4 linked regions of the Homo sapiens genome follow. The protein of the gene in region 4 interacts with the protein of the main gene of each other region in a pairwise test. Each region holds a gene or a part of one and is shown on either strand. Other genes may lie near its edges. The genes, in order: C11orf65, CTNNA1, MYNN and CDH1.

Region 1 (7,567 bases), on a different chromosome or scaffold from region 4:
GCTGGGATTACAGGTGTGTGCCACCACGCCTGGCTAATTTTTGTATTTTTAGTAGAGACAGAGTTTCACCCTGTTGGCCAGGGTGGGCTCGAACTGCTGGCCTCAAGAAATCCACCCGCCTTGGCCTCCCAAAGTGCTAGCATTACAGGCATAAGCCATTGCGCTCAGCGGCAACAATTTTTGTAGGATAGTTTTTACAAGTGGAATTGCTATGACAAAAGGTATGCACATATATATTTCTGTTTTTTGTTTGTTTTCTGAGACGGAGTCTCGCTCTGTCGCCAGGCTGGAATGCAGTGGAGCGATTTTGGTGCACTGCAACCTCCGCCTCCTGGGTTCAAGCGATTCTCCTGCCTTAGCCTCCCCGCGATTTCCACTCACTGCAACCTCCGCCTCCCGGGTTCAAGTGATTCTCCTGCCTCAGCCTCCCAAGTAGCTGGCACTACAGGTGTGCACCACCGTGCCCAGTTAATTTTTGTATTTTAAGTAGAGATGGGGTTTCACCATGTTGGTCAGAATGGTCTCCATCTCTTGACCTCGTGATCCACCCACCTCGGCCTCCCAAAGCGCTGGGATTACAGGCATGAGCCACTGCGCCTGGTGCACATATATATTTGAATTGACTCTCTCTGGAAAGGGATATGAGAAATTACTAAGAATGATTGTCTCTAGGAAGGGACCTGTGGACTGAGGAGCCTGGGTTCGGAAAGGGAAGAGATGTTTTTGTTCCAGTATACTCTTTTATGCTGTTGGTATTTTTCCACAATGTGCATTTAGTTCAGATATATACAATATAACTTCATTAAAAAAAACAGCGTGCATATTGAAACCTAACACTGCCAAACTGTCCTCAAAAATGGTGTCTAATTTATGCCCATAAACATTCTATGGGAATGCTTGACTCTAAATTTTAGAAAAGTAAAAAACTAAACGTAAATTAGATATTAGGATTAAAATGGGTCTTTTAATACTTTCCAAGAACTAAACTGTGAGATTTTTTACCTGTTATCAATGTAGTGTGTGTGTTATTTAACGTGACAGCATTAGCATTAATTCATCACAATTTCATCATTTTCCCAAATACATTCCCAATTTTGTAGGTGGAAATTTAACACTGGATCTTAAAAATCCCTTGAAAATCCTGAACCAGTTTATTGAATACTTTGATCTAAATAATTTTACACGGGCTTTCTGCATACACCTGCTTCCTGCTTCTCTAGTGACATAGGCTAAAGGGTGTTTAGAAGCTGCCAAAAAAGTATGTCATAAATGCCACCATTATATGTTTATGAATACACAAAATATAGAGGAAATATATTCCAGCATTCAAAATTATCTGATTCAGAAATAAACAATGAAGTTCCACAATTTCAAGAAAGAACATATTCAATTGTGTCAAATATTGTTGCAAGGGCAAGTAAATACAGAGGAAAAAAAGGGAGATTTGGCCAGATAAAGTCACTAGTGACTGTACAGGCACTGCTTCAGTGGAGTAAGCAGGGAAGGAAGTTTGGGTTGGGTTGAGGAAGTGGGAAAGTTGAGACAGTAAGTACAGTAGTAATTCTTTGGAGTGCTGTAAGGGAGCAGAAAAATGGGGTGTAGCTAGAGAGTGAGAATGGATTAAAGGTTTTTTTTTAAAAAAAAAAGGCTGGGCGCGGTGGCTCACGCCTGTAATCCCAGCACTTTGGGAGGCCAAGGTGGGCGGATCATCTGAGGTTGGGAGTTTGAGACCAGCCTGACCAAAATGGAGAAATCCCGTCTCTACTAAAAATACAAAATTAGCTGGGTGTGGTGGCGCATGCCTGTAATCCCAGCTACTCAGGAAGGCTGAGGCAGGAGAATTGCTTGAACCTGGCAGGCGGAGGTTGCGGTGAGTCGAGATCATGCCACTACTCCAGCCTGGGCAACAAGAGTGAAACTCGGTCTAAAAAAAAAAAAAAACAACAACAACAACAAAAAACGACAGATTCTAAAGCATGTTAAAATGTACCATCCAGTAGTGAGGGAGAAATTAAAGTGACGGAGAACTTAAAGGGGCAAAAAAAGGGATAAGTTAAATGGTAAAACCTTTGAGTAGGTGTAAGAGGACACCATCTGGAGCAGAAAGGAGGGTGGGACCGTTGCTGGCTTTAGATAAGAAATAAGATCGACTTTATATGGTTATTATGATGCTCCAGATAAAATAACCATTGTGAAAACCCTTCATAAGTTTTAAGATACTAAAATGTACTACCAGGCCGGGTCTGGTGGCTCAGGCCTGTAATCCTAACATTTTGGGAGGCCAAGGTGGGCAGATCACCTTAAGTCAGGGGTTTGAGACCAGCCTGGCCAATATGGTGAAACCCTGTCTCTAGTAAAAATACAAAAATAAACTGGGTGTGGTGGCGCACACTTGCAGTCACAGCTACTCGGAAGGCTGAGGCAGGAGAATAACTTGAACCCAGGAGGCAGAGGTTGCAGTGAACTGAGATCACGCCACTGCACTCAGCCTGGGCAACACAGCGAGATGCCTTCTCAAAAACAAACAACAACAAAAAACTAACCAAATAAAATGTACTATCAAACAACTGCTCAGGCAATGAAGTATTTTACTACACCCATGTGCCACTTGTAGATTCACAGATAAGTATTTTCCAAGCTTATTATATCCCTAATCAATAAAATTTTTTATCATAATAGATGATGTTTTCACTTATTTATTTTTACGCTTCGTGGAAAAAAGCCCACAAGACGTGTTTGGATTCTTGGTTTCACTTTTAAAGCAGCAAACAATCTTTACTTTGCTTGAATTGGAACCTGTATACGTCCTATTTTGTTTCCTCTACTAAATTTATTGAATAAACAAATGATTCGCGTGGCCTTTATAAGTTTCGTAATTTCGCTTTTCCTTTTTACCTGTGGTCCTTGATGCTAGGGGCAGGAGAAGAAAAACTAACCTATTCTTTAAAAACGCGTTTCCCTTTTCCATCTCTAAAAAAACTGAAAAGACGTAAAACAAATGGGAGGGGGCAAAGGAAAGAAATGAGGAAAAATCTAAGGAAGATTAATGTGTACTTCCCGGTCAGCGGGAAGGTGGACGGAGTAATATCTTTGCGGAGGATTGGGGTGTGGGGATCTGTGAAGGCGCAGTATGAGCAGTAAGGACTTGTCAACCAGCCCGACGCAACTTCACCGAGGGCGAGGAAAGGAGCTCTGAGGAAGGGGTTACTCCCGGGCAGGACTGTAAACCAGCTGGAGGCCTCGCTGGGAGGGCTTTAGAGGAATGAAACGTCCTTAAGAGGGGCGGATGGGGAATGGTATCAAGGGTATGGGTTCTTTAGGGCCTTGAAACAACGAAGGCTCAAACCAGTGGGCACAAAGGCTACCGGAACAGTAGTACGCGCTGAGAGAAGGGACACTATTCCCTTCACCTACCAATCGCTGCTGGCCCGGGCGCCGCTGGACTCCTAGGTAACGTCGCAGGCGGAAATGACGTAACTCAATCCGTTCTGTCCCGCCCCATTGCCCTCCTAGCCCCGCCTTCTAGGCCCCGCCTTTCCTCTATTCGCGCTCTGACAAAGTGCAGGGGATATAGACCAACCGCTTGTGAAGGCTGCTGGTTCTGTTAGAAGCCCGCTTTCGATTGTCAGTGGCTTTGAGGCAAAGGATTTTGGAAGGGAAAGCAAAGTGATTGTCTACGAAGTTGGGCTTAGTATATAATAAAGCCCAGTCATTTCAACCAAGAACCTTAAAGATGTTGAGAAATATAATGAAATATTTTCTATTAATTTTTGTAAAATTTTTCTTGAGATAGGGTCTCAATCTGTGGCCGAGGCTGGAGTGCAGTGGCGCGATCTCGGCTCACTGCAGCCTGGAACTCCCCTGGCTCAGGTGATTCTCCCACGTCAGCCTCCCGAGTAGCTGGGACCGTAGGAGTGCACCACCACGCCAGGCTCATTTTTCTATTTTTATTAATAGTGGCGACAGGGTTTCTCCATGTTGTCCAGGCTGGTCTTGAACTCCTGGGCTCCAGCGATCCCCCCCTACCCCATCTCCCGCCTTGGCCTCCCAAAGTGCTAGGATTACAGGCGTGAACCACCGCGCCCGGCCTATTTAATTAGTTTAATTTATTCATTTGAAAATGAGACAACTGATCCTTCTAGCTATTTGACAGGTCTTGCTCAAGGTCAAAGAATACGTGACTTGCAGTCCAATGTTATTTCTAAATGTAAGCTCTTCAGCTGGTTAAGCTAAACTGCTTTAAGTGAAAACAGACGACCTCTTGAATGAGTTTTCAAATGACCTTAAATAATGCAAGCACTGCTTATCTAAAGCAAGTCTGACTTGCTTGAATTCTGAGTCTGACACTTTGGCAGTGCTTTAGTTGGTCACAGATTATTGCAATGTGAAAAAATCTTGTTCAGAACTGCCCAGTTTTGCTATGTTCGTCCTATGTTCATGCATGGAATATAATTTGTTTGTAAGGAAGATAAACTTTTAAGGAGGGAAAAGAAACACCTGAAGAGAAATTTCCCTGTATAATGAAAACATTTGTACAGAAAAAATTCTTGGTAGGTTAATTCAGTGACTCACTGAACTTCCAGAGTTCTTTAAAATCATCACAATCATAAGCAAGGGGTGAGCTTCAGTTCCTCTTTATGTAGTTGCCTTGATGCATTAATACACAGTAGTTATGAACAATAAACTGTAAAAATATAGTCATGGAAACATTATGTATATCTTAATTTTCAATCTAATAGAAACTGGGTTAAAAAATTTAAATTCAGGCCAGGTGTGGTGGCTCACACCTGTAATCCCAGCACTTTGGGAGGCTGAGGTGGGCGGATCACTTGAGGTCAGGAGTTCAAGACCAGCCTGGACAACATGGTGAAACCCCCTCTCTACTAAAAATACAAAAATTAGCCCAGCCTCCCAAGTAGCTGGGACTACAGGCGCCCTCCATGATACCCGGCTAATTTTTTGTATGTTTAGTAGAGACGGGGTTTTACTGTGTTAGCCAGGATGGTCTCAATCTCCTGGTGGCGCGCTGCCTGTAGTCCCAGCTACTCAGGAAGCTGAGGCAGGAGAATTGATAGAACCCGGGAGGCAGAGGTTGGTTGCAGTGAGCCGAGATAGCGCCATTGCACTTCAGCCTGGCAACACAGCAAGATTCCCTCTAAAAAAAAAAAAAAATTAAATTCAAAATTACACAACAATGTGAATGTACTTAAGTCCACTGAATTGTACAATTGAAACTAGTTAGAAGGATAAATTTATGTATATTTTACCACAATTTAAAAATTTTAAATTAAAAAACTGCAAAACTAAGCCAGTAAATAATTTAGAACAAAAATTCCTAAATGTACTGGATGAAATATAAAAATAAATTTAAGGTATACTGCTGTTTAGATATTATTTTTATTAGGTTGGTGCAAAAGTAATTGCGGTTTTTGTCATTAAACATACATAATTAAACATAATGGCAAAAACCGCGATTACTTTTGCATCAACCTAATAAACTGCATATTTTTAATGTAGTGCTTATCTGAATTATTTTAAAAAGTATTTACAATAGTTACTGTTGAGTACTTATGTTACCTCTAACCTGATCCACAAGAATTCAGCAATTTCTACATAACAGGCTAGAACATTTTCTTATTGCTCTAATACATGTAAAAATTGTTCAGTTCTTTAAAAGTATCTTTCTTTAAAGTAGCCACAAGGGATCATTAAGACTAGAAACTGTCAAGTGTTAGGTTTATTCATTTATATGTACCTGCTTAAATCTAGGAACAGTTTACTAAGACGCAGAACTCAGAAGAACTTCTGGGTGGTTTCACAGAAATCGTTCCTTCCTTCCTTCTCTCTTCCCCTCTCCACTTATTCTCTTCCTCTTCTTTTTCTCTCTTCTTTGTCTTACTACTATTATACAATATATCATATTATATTTATGAAATTAATATTCTTGCTTTCCACTTACAAGGCAAAGATTTTTCTTTATAAACCATGTGAAGACAAGAGATAAGGAAACAAAAATGAATTGGCATGAGGAAAGGGGAAATATCTGTAGTGCCGAGGGAGAAGAGTCACAATTACATGCCATTTTGCCTAGGGAGAAGAGTCACAATTATATGCCATTTCTTTCCTCTCTGCTTTGGCACTGGAGCAAACTCCAACAATAGGGGACTCCAAGGCTGTCTCCCGGATGTGAGCATGGAATCTTTTATAATTGTGGAAAATATGTCATGTAGTAGAAAACCACAATGTCACACATGAGGAGTGGGTGTGGGTCAAAGGCACAGGTCCTGCAGTGGTCCTAAAGGAGGCCAGAGGGACCTCCAACCAGGCATCAATCCTCTTGTTGAGGCTTAGCAGTTTGAAGAGGCTAGAGGAAGGGAGTTGGCACCTTTAGCTAATTCTTGGCTGAGAAATCTGTCCTCTTCACTACAGTGACTCTTGTTATGCCAGGGGACTGTTTGTCTTCTGTGTACCCTTGTTGTATTTTCTTTTTCTTTTTTTTTTTTTGTTTTTGAGATGGAGTCTCGCTCTGTTGCCCGGGCTGAAGTGCAGTGGCAGGATCTCAGCTCACTGCAAGCTCTGCCTCCTGGGTTCACGCCATTCTCCTGCCTCAGCCTCCCAAGTAGCTGGGACTACAGGCGCCCTCCATGATACCTGGCTAATTTTTTGTATTTTTAGTAGAGATGGGGTTTTACTGTGTTAGCCAGGATGGTCTCGATCTCCTGACCTTGTGATCCACCCACCTCGGCCTCCCAAAGTACTGGGATTACAGGCGTGAGCTACCATGCCTGGCCCCTTTTAGTATTTTCACCATCAACAAAAATAATGGTGCCAAGCTTAAATATTTTTTCTTTTCTTTTCTTTTTTTTTTTTTTGAGACTGTAACCACACAATGAGTTCTCCTTGTCTGCTGCCTAGACAGAGCCAATTTATCAAGACAGGGGAATTGCAATAGAGTTTAATTCTTGCAGAGTTGGCAGTATGGGAGACCGCAGTTTTATTTCTTGAATCAGTCTCCCTGAAATGTCAGGGATTGTGGTTTTTAAGGACAATTTGGTGGGTAGGGGATCAGAAAGTGGGGAGCTGCTGATTAGTTGGGTCAGAGATGAAATCAAAGGGAGTCGAAGCTGTCCTCCTATGCTAAGTCAGTTCCTGGGTCGGGGCCACAAGACCAGATAAGCCAGTTTATTGATCTGAGTGATGCTAGTGGAATCATCAAGTGCAGGGTCTGCAAAATATCTCAAGCACTGATTTTAGGTTTACAATAGTGATGTTATCCCCAGGAGCAATTTGAGGAGGCTCAAAGTCTGGCAGCCTTCAGATGTATGAATCCTAAATCATAATTTCTATGTTTCAGCTAATTTGTTAGTCCTGCAAAGGCAGTCTAATCCTCAGGCATGAAGAGGGCTTCTTTTGGGAAAGCGCTGTTACCATCTTTGTTTCAAAGTTAAACTATAAACTAAGTTCCTCCCAAGGTTAGTTTGGCCTATGCCCAGGAATAAACAGGGACAGCTTGGAGGTTAGAATCAAGATGGAGTTGGTTAGGTCAGATCTCTTTCACTGTAATGAT
Region 2 (7,473 bases), on a different chromosome or scaffold from region 4:
CAGGGAAAATGGTGGGGAGGCTTGTTAACTACAGAGAAAAACTGTAACTGAGAAAGAGCTTCTCTTGATCAGGCTTAAAACACCAAATGAAATGTATTGTACAATTTCCAGGCGGTAGGAACCGTATTTTTGTACCTATCAGTGTGAGGGAATAGGGGGATGAAGACGGGGTGGCTGAGAAACACAGTGCTGAGGATGAAGAAACCTGGGCCCATCTAGGCACACCAGCCTTCCACAGCACTGGCCACATGGCTTCTGGCTGCTCTCGGCCCCTGCCCAGAGGGGGAGAGAGGGAACTGAGACATAAGAGACAATAGCAGAGGTTAATTTTGGCTACCAAGCGATGGAAGATTCCAGGACATACACATCCGCTCTAGAGAATCCTTACAAATCTATGCTGGGATTAATAAGAACCATTTTTAGAGATGAGTGGCAAAAGTGCTGTGGCCCATGAAACTTACCCTGAATGGACCAGGCTGGGCTGCCTGAGCCCCAGGAGGAGCTTGGAGACCCACCTGGCAAGTCTGTCACTTACATGGTCTGCAATGGTGCGGCCAAGCTTGTCCATCCTGGATCCTGCCTCAGCAATTTTCTTGGCAGCACTGATGACATCCGATGTATTTTTGAGTGGTCCTTTACCTCTGAGAAGAGGGAAGAGAACAAGGATTATTGTATGTGAAGCCCCTCACAGTTGGAGTAGAAAAAGAAGATTGTCCACAAAGCCCCATGGCCTGGGCTGTCTGAGCCGCTGCGCAGGTGACCTGTGGGGAAGAAAGTAGCCCCTGTGCAGCCTGGTGGGGCCGGGGTGCTGCTCACCGGGTAAAGTCTGTCATCTCCATCATAATCATGCACATCTGCTTGGCCAGCACAATGATGTCATTGCCACTGTCGTCCCATTTGGACACTTCAGCATCCAGCTTGCTCTTTTCTTCCTGGAAGCTGGCCACCTGTTCCGCAATCTTCGCTTTTTGCTCCTGGGGAAGCTGAGCCATGATCGCCTGTGATCAGAAGCACAAAGAGCTCTTACATAAAAAGAATATGAAGTTCTCAGAGTGCATTAGCCAAGAATATTTCCAACAGGCAATCTGTGGCATAGGTAGGATAATGCTTTAATAGGTTTCATTTCGCCTGAAGGGCTATTTCTCTCATTTTTTGCAGAAACTTATGGCAGCCTGAATTTCCGACCCACTTTTGAGCACAAGTTTTAGTGTGGAAGGAAACAGCGAGGGGTGGAAGGCTAATGTGGAAGCTTTGGAATCACACCTGTGCAGGGACAGAACCTGCTTAATTCTTATTAATATAAGACAAGAAATGAGAGAAGGGGTTGATGAAAGTGTGGAGCCCTTTCCCTGGTGGGCCCTGATGGACATTTCCAACTATTCAAGATGAACTGAAAGTGGCTTTAGAATGTACACCTGAAGAAAGAGGGCTGAGAGATACCGCTGGCACTCAGGCCATACTTGAGCAACACCTGGAGGCCTGCTGCCCACCTCCAGCCCACAGACCTACGGCTGGGGAGCTCCTCCCTCTCAGCTTCCCTAAGTGCTCATGACTGAGCAGGACATAAGGCAGGGATGTGCTCGCTGTTCACGACAGATTTCCAAGGAGTGAAATCAAAGACTCCTTAGAAATATTTCTTGGCATCCTCCCCAAAACATAAATGCTATTGATTGAAGATTTAATGACTCAAATGAATGCAATGGCTCTGACTGGCTTTCTTGAATGTACCACTGTTATTTTTTAAACCCATGAATAATTAAATAGTTCATACCCATAGTATCGAGATGGACAAAGGCAGCAATCTTTTTCAAATTTCACGATCCTTTCAACAAACACTGCATTGACTAAATCTTAGCCCTTCCCTGACCCAGGGCTCTATCATAAACTAAAGCTCAGGGCACTGCAGAGGAGGCCCAGGACCTGGTCTGCCTCTAGCTGAGGAGGCTACATTTGACTAGCAGGTGCCACAACTTAGTTTAACTTCAGTCTACTGCCAGAGAGACAGAGAGAGAGAAACGGTGTTCTGAATACTGAGGGTGTTTTCCTGGAAACAAGAAAGGGGACAGGGAAAGTCGGCAGCACAAGCTGAACTGCCCCACGGAGCGCTTCCTTACCCGGGCACTCTGGCCAGCTATCAGCTGATCGTCTTCTGTCTGGACGCTCGTCCTGCTTCTGACATCAAAATCTTCTGTCTCAAAGTCAGAGTCATCCAACTCCTCAGGGGTCTGCCACCCAGACAAAGATCACAGGTCAGACACATCTCTGGGCCACCAGCCCCCAGCCACCCTGAGCCTCTTGGCCAGGTGCACGGAGGCCCAGAATTCTGGATTTTAATGTGCAGTGTTCTGAACAGTATGGTGAATAAAGTCAAAATCACTCAGCATTTGTCTCGAGCCTCTGCTTCACTGGTGCACACGCTGGGCTGCCTGGCCCACAGCAGGCCTGGGCTGGTTTCACTGTGTGTGGGGCTCAATTGCTATCACTGAGTCAATTCACTATTTCTTTGTAAGACATGATTGTTTTTTTTTTTCCTTTGAGACAGAGTCTCGCTCTGTCACCCAGGCTGGAGTGCAGTGGCGTGATCTTGGAATCAATGCAACCTCCGCCTCCCGGGTTCAAGAGATTCACCTGCCTCAGCCTCCCAAGTGGCTGGGATTAGAGGCAACATGCCACCATGCCCGGCTAATTTTTGTATTTTTAGTAGAGACGGGGTTTCACCATGTTGGTCAGGCTGGTCTTGAACTCCTGACCTCAGGTGATCTGCCTGCCCTGGCCTCCCAAAGTGCTGAGATTACAGGCGTGAGCCACTTGTGCCCAGTGACATAAGGTTTTTACTTCCTAATTTACTTCCCCAACACCGGCATTTTAAGACAAAGATGAGAACTGTCCTGGGTAGAAAAGGTACTGACTTAAAAATAGAGGTGTTTTGTATAGTATTAAGCGGATTTGTATAACTTTCCTACTTTATGACAAAAAGAAAATTAAATAACTGGGCCTTCTGTTAGGGTACCAAGGCTGCTTGGAGGAGTAAAAATAGGCAATGTATTTTAAAGTATTCTTTTGACTTTCATCAAAAGAAAAGAGGGGAGAATATGGCAGGTGAGGGCTGAGTAAATACCCAAGGGACTGATTACTGGTCCTAGCTCTTTGCTTTAATTATGAAATAAAATTCTTATTTTGTACCAACTACCAGCCTCTCATGATTAGCTACTGACTTGAAACATAATGTTGTCCTCTGGCAGTTATCAGTAAGGGGGCAGCAGGCAGAACAGCTGGGGTTGGCGCTCAGCCCAGCCGGCTGGCCTGTGACAGGAGGGCAGTGAGGCGAGTCTCTCGTCTGTGTACCAGGACATAGTCCAAGCCCAGCCCAAGGACTTGCAGTGAGGTTCAAACAAGAAGATATGCAAGAAACATTCTGGAACCACCAAGAACGTGCTGTGCAAAGGCTGGGCCTGTCCCTTGATGAGGTGAGAACAGTGGACGCTCACGCAGGGGACCAGACAGCATGTCGGTGTGAGGTCCTGGAGGCCGATGGACTCGGTGGCACAAAACACAATGCCAGCACTGACAGTTTTAACGCTGCAGTCACACATGCCTTCGGGACTGGCATGCAATCAATCAGTTAAGGGGCTTTTCAAAGGACCACCTCCTAACATCATCTCTACCTCCCCAGCACCCCATCGCAGACCCAAGAACCGTTCTTGCCAAGAAAACCGAGTACTCTCATTCATTCATTCATTCATTCATTCATTCATTCATTATCTCTCTGCCAAGCACTGTTCTGGGCCCTAAAGATACAAAGTGACAAACAGACAAAAATTCCTCTCGCATATTCTAATGGAAGAAATGACAACAAAGTAAGCAAATGAATTATATGACACATCAAAAGTGACCAGTGCTATGAAGAAAGCAGTGATGAATAAAGGGAGATTTTAATTCTATATGGGTGTTTGGAAAAGTCTCACGAGAAGGTGCTCTCAAGGAGGGGGAAGGGGGGGCGGGTGGCAGCATAGAGGCCGTGGGGAAGGGGCATTGGCCCAGGGAACTGCGTGAATAGCAAGGAGGCCACAGAAGGGGGGCTTAGCTCACTGCCCCCATGTCACCGGCTTGCCTGGAACCCCATGAGTACAAGAGGAGATCAGCAGGAAATAAGGTTGGAGAAGTGACAGGTTCCAGTCCCAGAAGGCCTCGTAGGCCAGCATAAAGAATGAGTGACGTGGCGGCCTGTGGAGACGCTGGCACAGAGGATAACATGATCTGATTGAAGCTTACAGAAATCGCTCTGGCTGCCCTGTGGCTCATGAGACTGTAGGCACCCAGGATGGGAACAGGGAACCAGCTGAGTGGCACCTGCATGAACCCGGGTGAGAGGTGCTGGTGGCTTAGACGAGGGTGAGAACATGTTCAGGTTCTCTACTGTGAACGGAGAGCCAAAAGAATTCACAGATAAAGCAGATGTGAGGTATGGGACAAAAGGGAAATAAAAGATTCGAGGTCTGGGCCCGAGCAAGGGAAGACGGAGTCACTATCAACTAACATGTGCTGCCTGGGTGGAGCAAGTGAGAGGGAGGAGGCAAGGTGCGCAGACAGGTGTGGAACTTAGGAGAGTCGGCCTCTAGACAGGACTCTGAAGAGGTCAAGGACTTCCCAGCAGGCCACACCCGTGTTTCACAGGCTGAGGAGATGGGGAGAAACCAGCCAAGGAGACTGAGAAGGGGTGTGGGTCAAGAGACTTTTTTTTTCCCCCTAAAAATGGGAGAAATCATCATAGGCTTGGGGAAAGGTACAGGAGGCAGGGGGTGAAGAAGCTGGGATCCTAGTACAAAGACGTGCAAGGGATGGCCTTGGCCAGAAGCACCGAGAGCAATGCCCATGGTGCTAGGAGGAAGGTAGAGCACACAGACATGGGATGCAGAGGGGTGGACGCACTAACTGCCTCAGTATCCTCAACGAAATCGGCAAGTGGGCCAAACAGGACAGGGGCACAGGTGTGGGTGGGTGGGTGGACGCCTGTTGCAGGGCAGCAAGGGCGCACAAATGGCCGCGGCTTCTGCGGCTCCATCAGCGTGGCTGTGGCCATCTGCACTGTGCTCAGGAGAGCAGGATCTTGCCAGGACTGCACCTTGCAAGGCAGGTGTGAGGAAACAGCAGGGCAGAGGAGTGAGTATATTCAACTATGGACTCAAAGCTAACAAAGGACTGAACCAAGGACACAAGGGGCTGAGTGACACATGGGGAGGACCAACTGACTGAAGACCCCACAGTAGACTCAAAGGCTCGCTGGGAGTTGCAGGACTCGAGGGCGCAACCTGAACAATAGATCTAGGCTGCTGGGGATGACAAAGACAATGGCAGGCAGTGACAAAAGCTGAGGTACAGCTATGGCCGTGAGGTTGAGGTGGAGGAGGACAAGACATCAAGAAACTGAGAGGCCCAGGGGCTGGATGATTCTTGAATGAAGACAGGAATAGTTGTCAGAGAGCAGGACGGTATGCCGGGAGCTCAATCACAGATGCCATAGAGGCCCCTTTCTCCTCTGCCCCTGCGACAGAGGCCCTCCAGGCACTCTGGCTATGGGGAAAGGGGCTCGGCACTTGGCCATGAGCCTAGGAGCATCACCTGGGGCCGCTCCTCCCCCCAACACCCTGGGGTTCCATCATCCCGTCTGCCTGCAGCCCCTCCGAAGAGAGGGGCACTTCATGTGAACAATAACTTGAATCCGCATTATGAAAATACTTCCTTCTCTGATACTAGCTTGAGAACCATTATTTTCTATAATTTCCTGCCTAACTCAAACTGAAGCCTCATGTTGTAGAGACTGTTTATCCTAAATTAAATCGTCAACTCAGGCTAGCTCCCCTTCTTGGCCCAAGTTTGGGCTCTAACTTGCAACTAACAGTCATTTTAGACAACGTAATTAAATATATCTCATTCTAACAGCTTTTAGATTCATGGTTTTAATATACTGCCACCGCATCTGCCGAGTTCTAGAATGACGCATTGCTCAAGTTTAGCAAATGATAAGAAAGAAGCTGTTAAGACGTCTGAAATGCAGTTACTCACCCTTATCATCAGCACTGCTTTCCTGATGTCCCGGATGCCATCATATACCAGGCGGGAAGCATCGATAAACTCATTCTCATCCATGGGCTGGGCAGGGTCCGAGCTGAGGGCTTCCACGGCTGCTTCTACTTGCTCAGTAAAACGTGGCATGACTGTGGAGAAAGAGGCACAGTAGATACCCTGGTCAGCAGGCAGCATCATTCCCCTGGCCCTCCCTGAATCACTCAGCTAGACAGAAAGAGGTGAGGCTTATGATGAGCCTCTGCTTCTACCTGTGTGAAGGGTATTTACAGTTGAAATAAATTAAATGCAGTATTTTACGACTCAAATCATCTTTTTCTCTGCAACAGAGATTGGATGGTTGAGAACTTGAAGTGAGACTAACTTGAAGCCTTGCTTAAGAATGGGACCTACCTTAATTTAGTCTTTACTCACTAATAGGAGATTTAACTCAGAAATTCATCTTAAATCGTGTGTTTAGAATTAGTCCCGTGATTACTCATGAGATACAGATGAAGAAAATATGCTTGTGAGGCCTGAATTTGGCTATGACCAGCTTCTCAGGAGCCCGATGTGCCATGAGACCAAATCTGAGTTCCCAACTCCTCCTTCCTCACCACAGGGCTGGGCTAATGGGGTGGCCTGCCTCACTGAGGCTGCGGTGTGTGCGAGCACTGGAAAGGGAGAGTTCCCGTACCTGTGTTGGAGAGCAGCTTAGTGGCTTCCAGAACCTTCTCTGTGTAGACTCCTGGCTCATAGTTGTCCATCTCTGAGGTGACTACGTGAATGACCCGGGCTGCCCGGCCTCGAATTGCACCAGCTGTGCGGTCCAGGCCATCCACATCCTTCTCTTGGAGAGCAATGACACATTTGTTCACATCTTCCAAAATGTGATTCTCTGGAGAACAAGCAAAAAGTTGAATGAGGAAGGAGGCTTTCTATGAAAAGGTGGCAACTGTAAGCTGGCATCTATCATTTATTGTTTGCTTGGTGCCAGCCACAGTGCTGAAAGTTTTACATATACTTCATTGGAGAGACCAGTGACTAGTGACAGAGACAGAAACTAAACCTGTTATCACCCCCAAGAATAACAATCTTCATTCCAGGTTTTTAAAAAAAAAAAAACAAAAAATAAAAAACACACACAAAAAAAACAGGAGACATGCCCATCTTTGAGACACAGCTGTTCTGTAATTTTCTGGCAGAAAATTATCATAGAAGCATCAATAACTTATCTTCCTCTAGCTTCACTGACTCTATGTCCCAAATAAAGGAAAGGCTAAATTAGAACAAAAGTCCACTGTCCCCTCTCCCTCTCCTTCCAGGAGATGCTGATGATATTCAGACAATCTACCAAGAAGCCAGTACAGCCCTGGGATAGGAGAAGGTGCTGGAAAGCAGGTTGAAGCC
Region 3 (8,118 bases), on a different chromosome or scaffold from region 4:
AGAGTGAGACTCCATCTCAAAAAAAAAAAAAAAAAAAAAAAAAAATTTGTTCAACATTGAAATGGTAATTCATACAAACTATTTCATAGATGGCTATAATCTCAGTCACAGTTAAGAGCACCAATCAATACTTCAATAACAGATTTGCTTTTGTTTACAAGTATTAGATAACATCCTCTGAACAGTCACTGAAGGTCATTTAATTACATATTGCCAGGTACATGCCTAAATGCTTTATAAGATTATCCTCAGGACATGCCTATGAAATCTATTATAATCCTCATTTTACACACAAGTGAAAAATCAGAAGTCCAAAGAAATAAAGTAACCTGTCCAAGAGCACAGAATGTTAGAACCAAGATTTGACCAAGGTAATCTGGCCCCTGAGCCAACTTAATATATTCTACCTGTTTTCTTAATCACTAAGTTGTAAGCCTTTCTATTTTGGTATAAATCCTCTCTTACATTTCTAGCTGAACTCGAGGAATTAGCTCCCCAGTCTCCAGGAAAGATATGTACCAAAAGAGACTGAACAAAACACCTGGCTGTTCTTCACATTGGTTCTTTGCATGAAGTCTCAAAGAAAAGTGCTCTACCGTGTATTCAAATGAAGATTTTTTTGTTTTGCATAGTTAATTGAGAGAAAGGGAAACCATTAAATTGCAGGCCAGCCAAAATTCACACTGCTCTTTTCCTTTAATCAACTTATAAAGAACTCACTTGAAGATTTCATTATACCAAAATTTAAAAATAATTCCAAAATAGCATGAAAGTTTACTTTTCTCTCCCTCCCCTCCCCCCACTGGATACTTCTTACACAAGAATGTTTCCTCGTCAAAAGGATTAATGAGCACCCTGATTCTAGATTTTTAAATAAGTATATTTCCATGATAAGTTACAATATAAAAGGGAGGGAAAGATTTTGCTTAATGTATACATGCACATCTCTACAGAGATCTGGAAAAGAATTAATTAATATATATCAAAAGGTTAACAGGGGTTATCAGTGGGCAGCAGTATTTCAGGTGTTTCTTTTTTGTTTTTTCTATTTTTTCTCCGAGAAATGTGGAATTAAAGGGGGAGGAGAGGGTAAAGAAGAAAAATAAAGAAATTAACGTTCAGTGGGAAGTGAATAAGGATCAAGTAAAACCTTATTTAGCCTCAAGGTAGTTATTACCATCTCATTTTGACAGATGGGGAAACTGAGGCCCAGAGAGATTGCATCATGCTCAAGGAGACATAGCGACTGACAGGAAAGATCTAATTCCAAAGCCTATAATCTTCCTGTGTCAGAAGATTATGAACAGTCTATTCATGTTCACTTTCATAAGAGAGACAGAAATAAGACAGGGGTAATTTAATCAGTTTCTCTTTGCTTTTATTCCCTCCACCTTTTCCCCTACAATCTGTAAATGTATTGATATTAATCTAATTATATGGTTCGTTATACAGGGGAGACACACAGTGCCTACATTATCAGATTCCTCAGAACCCACTTCTTGTTAATGCAGTGACATCAGTAAGCATCTTAGAGAATCATTCTAGCATCTCTGACCTTACTTCAGTATTAGTACTGGTAGGTTAATAGAGATAACAGGAGTCAGAATGAGGGAGACAGAAGACCAGAGGAATTCAAGGACCAAAAAGCAATGGGAAACTGGAAGTAACTTAGAATTTTTTGTTTGCAGCCTGGCCAGCATGGTGAAACCCTGTCTCTACCAAAAAATACAAAAATTAGCCAGGTGTGGTAGTGCACACCTGTAGTCCCAGTTACTAGGGAGGCTGAGGTGGGAGAATCGCTTGAACCCGGGAGGCAGAGGTTGCAGTGAGCCGAGATTGCCCCACTGCACTCCAGCCTGGGTGACGGTGAGCCCGTCTCAAAAATAAAATAAAATAAATTCATTGTGTTTAATGTTCAAGTTTACATAAGTGAAATCACAGGCTTTGTTTCAGTAAATAAACGTGTCAGAAATCTTACTGTTTATTATCTGTGCTTATGAAAAATATTGCCTGCTCATCCTAAATCAGTGATACTGATTTCTTTATAAAAACAAACATTGTGTGCATAAATAGGTGAAGAATTTGAGTTCAGAGAATGAATGGAAAAAATACAAATCTACTTTTGCTGTGAAGACTACTGACTAGCTTTTATAACTGAAAATAAAATGTGTACTTTACCTGTCAAGATTTAAAGTTCCTGTGTATATAAACTCCAACAGTTTCTGAAATCCATCAGCCTTCACCTGACTCTGATCAAGAAAGACATTGTTCTCAGAAGTGCTTCTGTAGATCGCACCAAAATACTCACTAAAGGAGGCCAGCACATTCCTATGAGCTTTAAACTGGAATTCCCCAATCACTATGGTACAGTCACAGAGAAAACCTGCTTCCCGCTGTTTGTTCAGTCTCTCTAAAAGGTGCTCACAGTGGTGCGAATACTGCATTTTGATATCAGAATGGAATTTTACCCTTGATCTAAAAGACAAAAAGAAACAGTAAATCAGTAACCGTAAGTTCTCATCAACGTTCAGTGAGGGAAGGGACAGAGGACATAACTTAAACAATTTTAGCCCCCTTGAAAATCCTTATCAAACATACATGGTTAAGAATGAAGGGATGAGTGCCTTTCTATCTTTGGTTACCTTGATCAACTAACACAATCCTTTGGACACATCAATAAGTGACGGTGAATGGCAACACTTCTACCACCTGCAAAAAGCACAGCAAAACCTGACGCTTTCACATCTGTTGAACCCTCAGATTTTCAAGCTCAGTAGACATACTTATGTTACAAAAAAATTTTTTAAACCACTAAGACATGATCTCTTGGGACAGATAGGGGCAGAACAGTACGAGTTTTTAAAAACTGCTCTCAAGTCACCAAAACCTGTTAGTTTCCCCAGTGCAGTTTCTCCAAAACGAGAGGTGGCTGCCCAGAAAGCCGGGAATGCGCCCGGCCATGGCTTGCTGTCAAAGGTTCTATCACTCGCGCTAAGGAGGCCACACCTTCTCCCTTCCCACTCTCTACGCGAGGCGGCATCCGAGAGTGACAACCAAAGCCAGTCCCTCCTCGGCTTCTGCCGCCCTGCCCTCTGCCCAGCTCCCACTCCCGCGAATTTCCACAGCAGAGGTTGTGGCCCAGGCCACCCCGGGGCTGCCTAGCCCAAGCCTTCCACCTGCGCCCCGACCCGTGCTGGAACTCCAAGGAGCCTGCCCTCTGATGGCCCAGGCTCTAGAGAGACCGGGATGGCGGGCTGGGGGTGAAGTAGGAACTCACCGATAGCAACCCAAGGGGGGAACACAGTTTCTTCACTCTGTCTCCGCCATCTTGGGAGGACGTCACCGAGCCACGCTCCGCCCCTCCCTTCCTTCCACGGTGGCGTCACGTCCGGCTCTGTCTTCCCGTGGCAGTGCGGGAGGTTCTGGGGCCATGGGGGTCCGGCGCCGGCCAGGGCGGTACAGGATGTACCACAGAGACCCACTCCCCAGCATGCCAGGGGTCCCCCGAAGCAGCAGGCGTCATGGATACGAGAGCTGAGGGCTCGCTAGCTCGCAGCGCTCCGCCTGTCTTCCTCATCGCGAGCATTCTGGTGCCGGCAGTCAGCGTCTGGCGCTCTGCCGGGGCTCTGCGCCGAGGCCCGGCAGCACAGCACCGCGGGCCTCTCTCCTGAAGCCAGCTGCGCACTGCGTGCGGGGGCTTGTAGTTGCTTGTCTTCTCCCATCATCCTCCCCTTCCTCGGGGCCCCACCGGTGGAAACTGCTGCATGTGTACTCGGATCTCTGCCATAGGGGATTTTTTAGCTGAGACTTGGCACCCCTTTCCCGCTTACGTACCTGAAAACTCTTGGCACCCCCTGGTTTTTTTGTGCCCCAGCCAACTGTAGCTCAGCTTCCAAGATGCCCTTACCTGGTGACAGAAGTCTGGGATGCACGAAAGCGGAGCAGCTGGGCACAGTGGGCATGCGCAACATTAGAGGAAGGTGGGCTTTATACCGGAAAAGGTTTTCCTGCGTCTGGACCAGAAGATTTTTAATACGATTATTTACAGCCACTTCAGACGAAAAACCAAGTGATATAATACAAAAATGCTCAGGAGGCGACAGGACTAACCACTTTTACACTTTGATCTTTCCTTCTAGGCTGTACATTATTTTTTCAGTGTTAGCTGGTGAGTCAAATTCATTTTTTAAAACCCGGGACACATGTTCCACGTGGCAAGGCTTCCATAAAAACATTTGGTGAACGAATAAAGTAACAAAAACTTACAGTTCAGACTCTCAAATTGCTATCATGTCTTTTGAAGGACCGGCATACATTAAGCTAAGGCTTCCCTCAGAAAAAAAAACAAAACAAACAACAAAAGAAAACAAAGCGTGATCTCACGCTTTCTTCCAAGCGAAGGAAAAAAAAAAAAAAAAAAAAAGGGATTTTTTAGTGTGTTTCCGCCCGGTTTCGAACCGGGGACCTTTCGCGTGTTAGGCGAACGTGATAACCACTACACTACGGAAACCCCACTTTGGAGAGGGTTTTGTAAAGTCCTTGATATGTAAGTGTCAATTCGCAATTCTCAAGTGATTATTATCAAATTGAGAGGAATGAATATAATGTATTTAAAGAAAAAAACAGAAAAGGAAAAATAGCCTATGCCCAATTGAACAGAGCTGAAACCATTTCAAAAGCTTGAATCTGCACGCACTTTCTTCCAAAGTGCCCGGGTACCGCAGTAGAAACCAGGCACTCCCGAGTTGCCCTTCCTTTGGGTGGCCTTTTTTTTTTTTGTCTCCCTGGAAAGGCGTTTTATTACACATCCTTTCCGCAGGTTGAGCTGCTCAGAGTCCGGGGCGAAGCAGGGGGCTTTCGTTATTCAGCCGCGAAAAAGCCATCCTTTCAGCTTCTGGTGGAAGGACGTGTAAAATTACTTTTGAATTTCCTCTTTTTGCTTCCGAAGACCAAGCAGAAGTTCTAAATTGACTGCTTGTTTTCAAATTCTCTACAGATGTATGCAGAATCAGACACCAAGATGCGTTTATTGACATGCAATGTACTTTCAAATTTTTCCAAACTTGAATTTCATATGACCTGATAAACTTCACTTTTCCTGCAAAAAGACAGGCACGTCCTTCAGCCTAAAAATCAAGAGTAGCGAATGAGGCTTGCAGATTACACCAGAAGGATAGAAATCGAAATATATATATTTATATTTATTATATATAAATATAAATTTTTATATATTTATTATATATAAACATAAATTTTTATATATTTATTATATATAAACATAAATTTTTATATATTTATTATATATAAACAAATTTTTATATATTTATTATATATAAACATAAATTTTTATATATTTATTATATATAAACATAAATTTTTATATTTATTATATATAAACAAATTTTTATATTTATTATATATAAACATAATTTTTTATATATTTATTATATATAAACATAATTTTTTATATATTTATGATATATAAATATAATTTTTTATATATTTATGATATATAAATATAATTTTTTATATATTTATGATATATAAATATAATTTTTTATATATTTATGATATATAAATATAATTTTTTATATATTTATGATATATAAATATAAATTTTTATATATTTATGATATATAAATATAAATTTTTATATATTTATGATATATAAATATAAATTTTTATATATTTATGATATATAAATATAAATTTTTATATATTTATGATATATAAATATAAATTTTTATATATTTATGATATATAAATATAAATTTTTATATATTTATGATATATAAATATAAATTTTTATTTATGATATCTAAATATAAATTTTTATTTATGATATCTAAATATAAATTTTTATTTATGATATCTAAATATAAATTTTTATTTATGATATCTAAATATAAATTTTTATTTATGATATCTAAATATAAATTTTTATATATGATATCTAAATATAAATTTTTATATATGATATCTAAATATAAATTTTTATATATGATATCTAAATATAAATTTTTATATATGATATCTAAATATAAATTTTTATATATGATATCTAAATATAAATTTTTATATATGATATATAAATATAAATTTTTATATATGATATATAAATATAAATTTTTATATATTTATGATATATAAATATAAATTTTTATATATTTATGATATATAAATATAAATTTTTATATATTTATATTTATGATATATAAATATAAATTTTTATATATTTATATTTATGATATATAAATATAAATTTTTATATATTTATATTTATGATATATAAATATAAATTTTTATATATTTATATTTATACATATAATAAATATAAATATAAATTTTTATATATTTATATTTATACATATAATAAATATAAATATATATATTTCGATTTATATCCTTGCTTAAATATATAAATATATATTTTATAAATATATAAATATATTTATATAATATAACATATATTTATATAAATTATATAAATTTATATATTTTTTAATATTTTATATTTAAATTTATATATATTTATATAAATATATATAAATTTATATTTATTTACATATTTAAGCTAGGAACTACTATTTTGTTTTAATTGCGTACATTTTGCTTGGAAATCACAGGAAGAAACACAACAAAGCATTGCCCAAGGTACAGAAACAATAATAAACGTACTTAAAACTCATTTAAATTCCAGCATTTTTCTCCTTATTTTAGAAGTTTAACATTTCAGAAGCAGACACTGCCTCCCTTCCTGCAACAACTTTCTCCTCTTAAGTCTCATTTTTCCCCAGTTTCAAGGGCGAATTCTAGAACTCCCCGGAACCGCCACCAGTTAACCAGAATTCCGTGGCTTTGGAAAATAAAACTGCTGTTATAGCTCTTCTGGGTATTTGAGAAATGCACTTGTGAAGGGTTAGAGTTGAATCTTTTGATGCGAAAGTCGGGTTTTCCTGATACTGGGATTCCGGGATTCCAGGTGTTGGGGTGGCCCAATTCCTGCGAGAAGCAATAGCGGGCGGTAACATGAGGAGCACGGTGCGTCCAGCGAGTCCTTCCGCCTGGGGCCCTGCCGACCCCCTGCCTGCGCCCCCAGGACTCTGGCCTCACCCGGCCGTGCCGGGGCCTCTGTGACGCGGCGTTCCAGGCACTCGGCCCCGGCCGAGCCCGTAGCTAGAGCGGCTCAGAGACAGGAGGCGGCGGCAGCAGCGGCGGCATGAACCACTGCCAGCTACCGGTGGTGATCGACAACGGCTCGGGAATGATCAAGGCGGGCGTGGCTGGGTGCCGGGAGCCCCAGTTTATCTACCCGAACATTATCGGCCGCGCCAAGGGCCAGAGCCGCGCGGCCCAGGGCGGGCTAGAACTCTGCGTGGGCGACCAAGCTCAGGACTGGAGGAGCTCGCTGTTCATCAGGTACCTCCTTCTCCCAGCAGGCTGCTGGGGCTGGGGAGGGTGGGTGGGGTGGGGGTGGGGTAGGGTGGGGCTGGGGAGGTTGGGGGGTGGGGCTGGGGTGGCTGGGGGTGGGGGGACTGGGGGTGTTGTCGGGGGGCAGGAAAGGACCCCAAAGGAGGTGCGCAATGGGGACAGAAAGAATAAGAAAGCCGGGAGCTGGAAAGCCCCATCCAGCTGGAATTACTACAAACGCACGGGCCACAAATCTCCAAGGGTACCACACATCTAAAAACTGAACATTTTGCTCTCTGTGGCTATACAAATGTATTAAAACGTATAAAGTTATCGAACGAATTCATTTAAGAATATTAACTCATGGTCCCTTTTGTCACTTGGGTTATTCTCTTCAATTGACATTTAAACTATACTATAATGTGGACATTTCCCAATTTTTTAAAAGTCACAAGGTTCCAAAGGACAGAGAAAATGGAAAGCAACAAAAATCGCAGAGGTAGGCCGGGCGCGGTGGCTCACGCCTGTAATCCTAGCACTTTGGGAGGCCGAGCAGGGCGGATCACGAGGTCAGGAGTTCGAGACCATCGTGGCTAACACGGTGAAACCCCGTCTCTACTAAAAATACAAAAAAATTAGCCGGGCGTGGTGGCGCGCGCCTGTAGTCCCAGCTACTCAGGAGACTGAGGCAGGAGAATGGCGTGAACC
Region 4 (7,473 bases):
GACACTCACTGCTCACCCTACACTCCACCCCTACTCCATGTCAATTTTCAATTGTAAGTAGAAGCTTCCAGGTTCCCTTGCAGCTAGATGTGGCTGTGTTTGGGCCAATGGTATATAAGTGGAGGTGATATATGCAACTTCCAGTCGTTTGGCCTCCACTTCCTCTGTTATCCCCTTCCCCAATCTAGGATGGAATGTAGAGGTGGTGGTGGTGAGCTGGCTAGCTTAGACCACGCTGATGAGGGCAGCCCCCAAGGTCTTGCTACTCTGCCTATGGTCTAAGGAACTGCAACATCAGTACCGCCTGGGAGCTGGTTAGAAATGTAGAATCTGGCCGGGTGCGGTGGCTCAAGCCTGTAATCCCAGCACTTTGGGAGGCTGAGGCGGGTGGATCACCTGAGGTCGGGAGTCTGAGACCAGCCTAACCAAAATGGAGAAACACCGTCTCTACTGAAAATACAAAATTAGCTGGGCGTGGTGGCACATGCCCATAGTCCCAGCTACTCAGGAGGCTGAGGCGGGAGAATCGCTTGAACCTGTTAAGCAGAGGGTGCAGTGAGCTGAGATCACACCATTGCACTCCAGCCTCGGCAACAAGAGCGAAACTCCATCTCAAAAAAAAAAAAAAAAAAAAAAGAAATGCAGAATCTGTGGCCCTATGCCAGACCTCCTGGATCAGATTTCCCAGTTCAAAAAGAGGCCCAGATGATTTGTATGCTCTCAAGCTTGGGATGCACTGTCTTGAAGAATGAAAAGAGACAAGGTAGAAGAAACCTGGGTCCCCTGTTGACTTCATGGCCTTCCCATCTTAGACCATTTACCTCTGAAATGTTCAGTAAGAGACAAACTTCTATTTTATGGAGGCTGGCATAACTTGGGAGTCTCTTTCCCACATCAGCTAACCTATATCCTTATTAATATAAGAACAAAAATCATTTCCAGGAAATAAACCTCCTCCATTTTTTTAAGTCAAAGGCTGAGTCACTTGCCAGCTGGACTTACTTAGCAAAGCAAGAATTCCTCCAAGAATCCCCAGAATGGCAGGAATTTGCAATCCTGCTTCGACAGGCTGTGCCTTCCTACAGACGCCAGCGGCCCCTTCACAGTCACACACGCTGACCTCTAAGGTGGTCACTTGGTCTTTATTCTGGTTATCCATGAGCTTGAGATTGATTTTGTAGTCACCCACCTCTAAGGCCATCTTTGGCTTCAAAATGATAGATTCTTGGGCTGGAGAAAGCAATAAAAAGAAATGATGAGACCAGGGGAGGAAAATAAAAAGCTCATTCCAGAATAAAATTGCTAGTGAACTAAAGACACCCGCAAGCCGAGTGAAGAGAGCAGAGCTGCTTGGGTTTTATTTAGGTATGTACTTTTTTTTTTTTTTTTTTGCTGTAAAAAGCTTTATTTCCATTTGGTCTAAGGCTTGGGAGAGGGCTCTAGAGTTGGTTTAAAAAAGCTGCCTAGTGGCTGGAGGGAGAGGCTTAGGCAGAGCGGGGCTCTTCAGATGTCGCTGGGTTCGGTAGGCTCCCGTGTGCCTGAGGGTGAACCTTTTTGCCCAGCCCGGCCTGGAGGCCGGCTGGCCTGTGAAGGTTGGTCAGGTGGTCACCTATCTTCTTGATGAGTTTTACTTTTTCATCTAGGAAGTGGCTCTCCAGGAAGTCACAGATATGGGGGTCTGTGCAGGTGGAACCCAAGGCATGAAGATCCAAAAGGGTCCAGTTCAGGTTCTTCTCCAGGGCCAGAGTGACTTCCATCGCACCCAGGGTTTTACCCCATTCATCTTTACATGGCTTCTGGATGTCCGGGAAGACAGTGCGGCCGCCACACTGGTTTTGCATTTTCAAGGGACACTCAGCGCCCTTGTGCTTCTCCTTGGCCAATTTGTGGAAGAAGTGGTGCACACCTTCCAGATCCACATCGTCATGGTGGAAATAGAAGCCCAGAGAGAAGTAGGTGTAGGAAGCCCATATATGCAAATTGACCAGGCAGTTGACAGCTGCCTCCACCTCGGTAGAATAGTTCTGATGAATCTGGGAGCTCACGATTGGTTGGCAAGAAGGAGCTAACCACAAAAATGGTGTTGTTTGGTCCCAGGAGCAGGAGGTAGCAGAGAAGATGGTCCTGGTTGCAAGTGGAGAGGGGAGTGGAGGGTGGCTAGAGGCTGGGAGAGGGAGCCCTGCTTGGGTTTTAGATTACTGGGTAGCATGCTACAAAGTTAGATACCAGGAAAGGAAAAAGACCTTTGGAGCAAGGCCTCAAAGACAGAAGGGACAAGGAAGCAAGTATCAATGGAAGGGGTGACATCTAGAAGTTGAGAAGGGAAATTGAAAGGTGGGGATCTGGGGGAAGGGAAGCATGGCAGTTGGAGCAAAGTTGCCAAAATAAAACTCAGGTACCCACTTGGGTCGTTGTACTGAATGGTCCAGTTGGCACTCGCCCCGTGTGTTAGTTCTGCTGTGAAGGGAGATGTATTGGGAGGAAGGTCTGCATCAATGATGTTTATGACCTGAGGCTTTGGATTCCTCTCACAGAAGAATATAGTTCGAGGTTCTGGTATGGGGGCGTTGTCATTCACATCAGACAGGATCAGCAGAAGTGTCCCTGTTCCAGTAGCAACTGGAGAACCTAAGAGAAAATACACAGAAAATGTGGCAGCTTGGCAACAGTAATGAATCCCCATTGCCTTCCACCAGACCAAGTCTAGATCTTGTCCTGGCTCTTCAGTGGTCCCTCACCAGGCCCCACTCCACCCGCAGAACCTCCTGTCCCACCAATCCCAAAGGACCTCCACTCCCAGGTGGGCAGGTCTCTGGCCGTTTTACACAGACAACTTATTCCCACCTTGATAACAATTATTCAAGTTATTCCTCACACCAAGAACACACTCCTCCTTCTTCACATATCGTTATTCATTCACTGAATTTTAACTACTCCAAGAAGTCCTATTGCCTGCCTGTTGTTTCCCTAGTTCTCCTTTTTCTGCACTTTCCTGCCATTTGAGGTCATTAACAAAGCATTGAGTCTTTTTATTTATTTTAATTTTAAGCCTGACTAGAAGCTTAAAATCAAAGGGGATGAGTTGGGTCTTTTGAAGTCTCTGCAAATTGGTTTTCAAAATAGATTGGGGAGTTCACATACGCTTTTTTTTTTTTTTTTGAGGCAGAGTCTCACTCTGTCACCCAGGCGGGAATGCAGTGGCATGAACACAGTTCACTGCAGCCTCTACCTCCTGGGCTTAATCTCCCACCTCTGCCTCCCTAGTAGCTGAGACTACAGGCGCATGCCACCATGCTTGGCTAGTTTTTAAATTTTTTTTGTAGAGAGGGGGTCTTATCATGTTGCTCAGGCTGGTCTTGAACTCTTGAGCTCAAGTGATCCTCGCATCTTAGCCTCTGAAAGTGTTGGGATTATAGGCGTGAGCCACTGCGCCCAGCCCATCCACACTTCTGTTTGCATTTCTTTTATATCTTGACACAACACGGAGCATATGGTAGTAGGAAAAATTGGTACCCAGGGAACTATCATCAATATTAGTATACGATACGGATACAAAACAACAGAAGAATCCATCTCAAACCTATAAATAGATATGTCTAGATGGCATGACTGTAAATTTTTAAAACTTTTTTCTCATGTAAATTTTATTTTTTAACAATGAGCACACGTCATTTAAAATTAACTCAAGGAGGCCAAGCATGATAACTCATGCCTGTAATCCCAGCATTTTGAGATTATGGGCAGTATGTTGCCCAGGCTAGTCTTGAACTCCTGGCCTCAAGCCATCTCCCACCTCAGACCCCCAAAGTGTTGGGATTACAGGTGTGACCCTAGCACCCAGCCTATAAATGTATTTAAATACACAGAAGCAGTCTGGAAGGACCCACACCTAACTGATTTAACACCTAACTAATTTCACCCACATGGGTATTAACATTTTTCAGGTAAAGGAATTGAGGGACATAAAAATTAAACAGCAGGCCAGGCACGGTGGCTCACACCTGTAATCCCAGCACTCTGGGAGGCCAAGGTGGGCAGATCACAAGGTCAGGAGTTCAAGACCAGCTTGGCCAATATGGTGAAACCCCGTTTCTACTAAAAATACAAAAAATTAGCTGGGCGTGGTGGTGCACACCTGTAATCCCAGCTACTTGGGAGGCTGAGGTAGGACAATTGCTTGAACCTGGGAGGCGGAAGCTGCAGTGAGCCAAGATTGCACCACTGCACTCCAGCCTGGGTGACAGAGCAAGACTCTGTCTCAAAAAAAAAAAAAAAATTAAACAGCAAATCCAAGGTCACACAAGTATTAAGCTTTGGAAATGGATTGTAAACCATCATTACCTGGTTCCCTTAGGGAAGGAATAAAGAGTGAGTAGTGAAAAGTAAGTTCTGTTTGACCAAAATTACTTGAAAAAACAATTTTTTTTTTGGAGACAGAGTCTTGCTCTGTTGCCCAGGATGGAGAGCAGTGGCGCAATCTTGGCTCACTGCAGCCTCCACCTTTCAGACTCAAGCAATCCTACCACTTCAGCCTTCTGAGTAGCTGGGCCTACAGGTGCTCACCAACACACTCAGCTAATTTATGTACTTTTTGTAGAGACAGGGTTTTGCCATGTTACCCAGGCTGGTCTTGAACTCCTGGGCTCAAGTGATCCTCCCACCTCAGCCTCTCTAAGTGCTGGGATTACAGGTGTGAGTCACCGTGCCCAGCCCACTTGAATTTTTGATAATAAGAATGCCTTTGTTTAAGAATAAAAGAGAAATCTTTTGCAGCAACATGGATGAAACTGGAGGCCATTGTCTCAAGTGAAACGAATCAGACATATAAGGAGAAATACTGCATGTTCTCACTTAGAAGTCGGAGTTCGATAATGTGTACACATGGATGTAGATTGTGGAATGATAGACAATGGCAGCTGGGAAGGGTCCAAGGGGTGGGAGGGGGTAGATGATGAACAATTACTTAATGGGTACAATGCATGTTATTTGGGTGACGGATACCCTAAAAGCCCTGACTTTACCACTACACATCTATGCATGTAACAAAATTACCCTTGTACTCCATACATTTATACAAATCAATCCAGCAAACAAAAAGGATAAAAGAAAAAGAATGAACTCTTCCCTCCAAAAGAAGGGAGGGGCAAGGAACTGAACTAGCTAGGAGGTCGAGGCAGCAAAGGCTCAGATGAGGCCCCCTTACCATTGTCTGTAGCTATGATTAGGGCTGTGTACGTGCTGTTCTTCACGTGCTCAAAATCCTCCCTGTCCAGCTCAGCCCGAGTGGAAATGGCACCAGTGTCCGGATTAATCTCCAGCCAGTTGGCAGTGTCTCTCCAAATCCGATATCTGAACGGGGACAAGCTCTGGCTTTTAGAATAGGACCAGCAAACAACATGTAGCTGAAAACGGCTTAAGCGCTTCTTCAGTTATATGGTTACTTCCAACGTTTTTATTTTGAAAACCAACAATAGGCCGGTCGCGGTGGCTCATGCCTGTAATCCCAACACTTTGGGAGGCTGAGGTGGGCAGATCACCTGAGGTCAGGGGTTTGAGACCAGCCTGGTCAACATGGTGAAACCCTGTCTCTACTAAAAATACAAAAATTAGCTGGGTGTGGTGGCACACGCCTGTAATCCCAGCTACTGGGGAGGGTGAGGCAGGAGAATCGTTTGAACCTGGGAGATGGAGGTTGCAGTGAGCCGAGATTGCACCACTGCACTCCAGCCTGGGCAACAAAAGTGAAACCCTTTCTTTCTTTTTTTTTTTTTTTTTTTTTGAGACGGAGTCTTGCTCTGTAGCCCAAGCTGGAGTGCAGTGGCGCGATGTCGGCTCGCTGCAAGCTCCACCTCCTGGGTTCACACCATTCTTCTGCCTCAGCCTCCGGAGTAGCTGGGACTAGAGGCGCCCGCCATCACGCCCGGCTAATTTTTTTGTATTGTTAGTTGAGACGCGGTTTACACCGTTTTAGCCAGGATGGTCTCGATCTCCTGACCTCATGATCCGCACGTCTCGGCCTCCCAAAGTGCTGGGATTACAGGCGTGAGCCACCGCGCCCGGCCGAAACTCCGTCTTTAAAAAAAAAAAAAAAAAAAGAAAACCAAGAAAACCAACAATACAACAGACAAGTTACTATAATAGTATGATGACCATCCATGAACTCTTCACCTGAGTTTACTCATTGTTAATACTTTGCCACATCTGCTCTGTCTATATTGACACACGCCTACATAATTTCTTGTTCTGCTGAACCATCTGCAAATAAATTGCAGAAGTCATGTTCCTTTACTTATAAATATGTCAATGTGTTATCTCCTAAGAACAAAGGCATTCTGTTATATAACCCCAATTTGATTTTCTTTTTTTTTCTTTTCTTTTTTTTTTTTTTTGGGACAGAGTCTCGTTCTGTCGCCCAGGCTGGAGTACAGTGGCGTGATCTCAGCTCACTGCAAGCTCCACCTCCCAGGTTCATGCCATTCTCCTGCCCCAGCCTCCTGAATAGCTGGGTCTACAGGCACCCGCCACCACGCCCGGCTAATTTTTTGTATTTTTAGTAGAGACGAGGTTTCACCATGTTAGCCAGGATAGTCTCGATCTCCTGACCTCAGATGATCCACCCATCTCGGCCTCCCAAAGCACTGGGATTGCAGGTGTGAGCCACCGTGACCAGTCTTGATTTTCAATTTTAGGAAACAAAACTTTGATAGAATTCTATTGTCGAATATATGGTGCATATTCGAATTGTCAGATTTTCCAAAAATGTCCTTTATAGCAACCTTGCACCCTTCTGGATTCAGGATCCAATATGGCCTTTCGTTGGCATGGCTCTTCCTTAGGTCTTTCTTTTCTGTCACTGACATTTTTGAAATGTGCTGGCCGTTGTTTTGTAGCATGCCCCTTAACTTGGGTTTGTCTGATTATTCCTCAAAATTTAGATTCAGGTAATCCATTTCAGGGGTCGGTGGGGGCAAGAACAGGACAGAGGTGATGCTGTGGCCTCCCTAGTGCAGGACACTGGGAGGCACATGATGTCTGTCTGTGCTTCTATTGATAACTTTGATCACTTGGATAAGGGAAAGGCCACCAGATTTCTTCACAGCAAAGGTGCCTTTTTTCACTGCATGATTAACCTATAATCTGCAGGTAGATAATTTGAGAATATCTTGTTCAGCAACTAATTTTCACCCAATGGATTTGGCATCTGTGGATGATTCTTGCTGAAGCAATGATTACTATAATCCTTATTTATTTTTAAAAGCAGACTCCTGCAGACCAGCTCCCCCAAACAATACAGTAGTTCCTAAATGGTGGCAACATGCCACCTCCTCTCCTGTCATGAACATCTGGAGATGCAGGTTGCCCTGTTGACCTGTGGGTGGACTGCACTATTGCCATTTAATGGGAGGTACAGGGAGGCTAACAGAGATCTACTGCTCAGTTATTTACTAGGGTCATGGAAAGGCTCTGAAAGAG

The links.
Region 1: the proteins of CDH1 (region 4) and C11orf65 interact in binary tests that used the Homo sapiens proteins (3 or more experiments, as listed by UniProt).
Region 2: the proteins of CDH1 (region 4) and CTNNA1 interact in binary tests that used the Homo sapiens proteins (3 or more experiments, as listed by UniProt).
Region 3: the proteins of CDH1 (region 4) and MYNN interact in binary tests that used the Homo sapiens proteins (3 or more experiments, as listed by UniProt).

The regions. Positions count from the first base shown.
Region 1 is NC_000011.10:108,464,057-108,471,623, forward strand, and holds the start of C11orf65 (protein MFI), read right to left. Parts: upstream 3,474-7,567; 5' UTR 3,415-3,473; exon of another isoform or gene 2,896-3,414; intron 1-2,895. UniProt on the Homo sapiens protein: Acts as an inhibitor of mitochondrial fission. Interacts with MFF and prevents DNM1L recruitment to mitochondria, promoting a more fused mitochondrial network.
Region 2 is NC_000005.10:138,923,998-138,931,470, reverse strand, and holds part of CTNNA1 (catenin alpha-1), read right to left. Parts: intron 6,962-7,473; coding exon 6,761-6,961; intron 6,216-6,760; coding exon 6,064-6,215; intron 2,226-6,063; coding exon 2,115-2,225; intron 999-2,114; coding exon 817-998; intron 642-816; coding exon 536-641; intron 1-535. UniProt on the Homo sapiens protein: Associates with the cytoplasmic domain of a variety of cadherins. The association of catenins to cadherins produces a complex which is linked to the actin filament network, and which seems to be of primary importance for cadherins cell-adhesion properties.
Region 3 is NC_000003.12:169,768,622-169,776,739, reverse strand, and holds the start of MYNN (myoneurin), read right to left. Parts: upstream 3,345-8,118; 5' UTR 3,278-3,344; intron 2,710-3,277; exon of another isoform or gene 2,643-2,709; intron 2,476-2,642; 5' UTR 2,445-2,475; coding exon 2,179-2,444; intron 1-2,178. Other genes in the region: ACTRT3 (actin-related protein T3), read left to right, coding at 7,220-7,419.
Region 4 is NC_000016.10:68,817,156-68,824,628, reverse strand, and holds part of CDH1 (cadherin-1 isoform 1 preproprotein), read right to left. Parts: intron 5,350-7,473; coding exon 5,204-5,349; intron 2,629-5,203; coding exon 2,404-2,628; intron 2,181-2,403; exon of another isoform or gene 1,397-2,180; intron 1,231-1,396; coding exon 1,003-1,230; intron 1-1,002.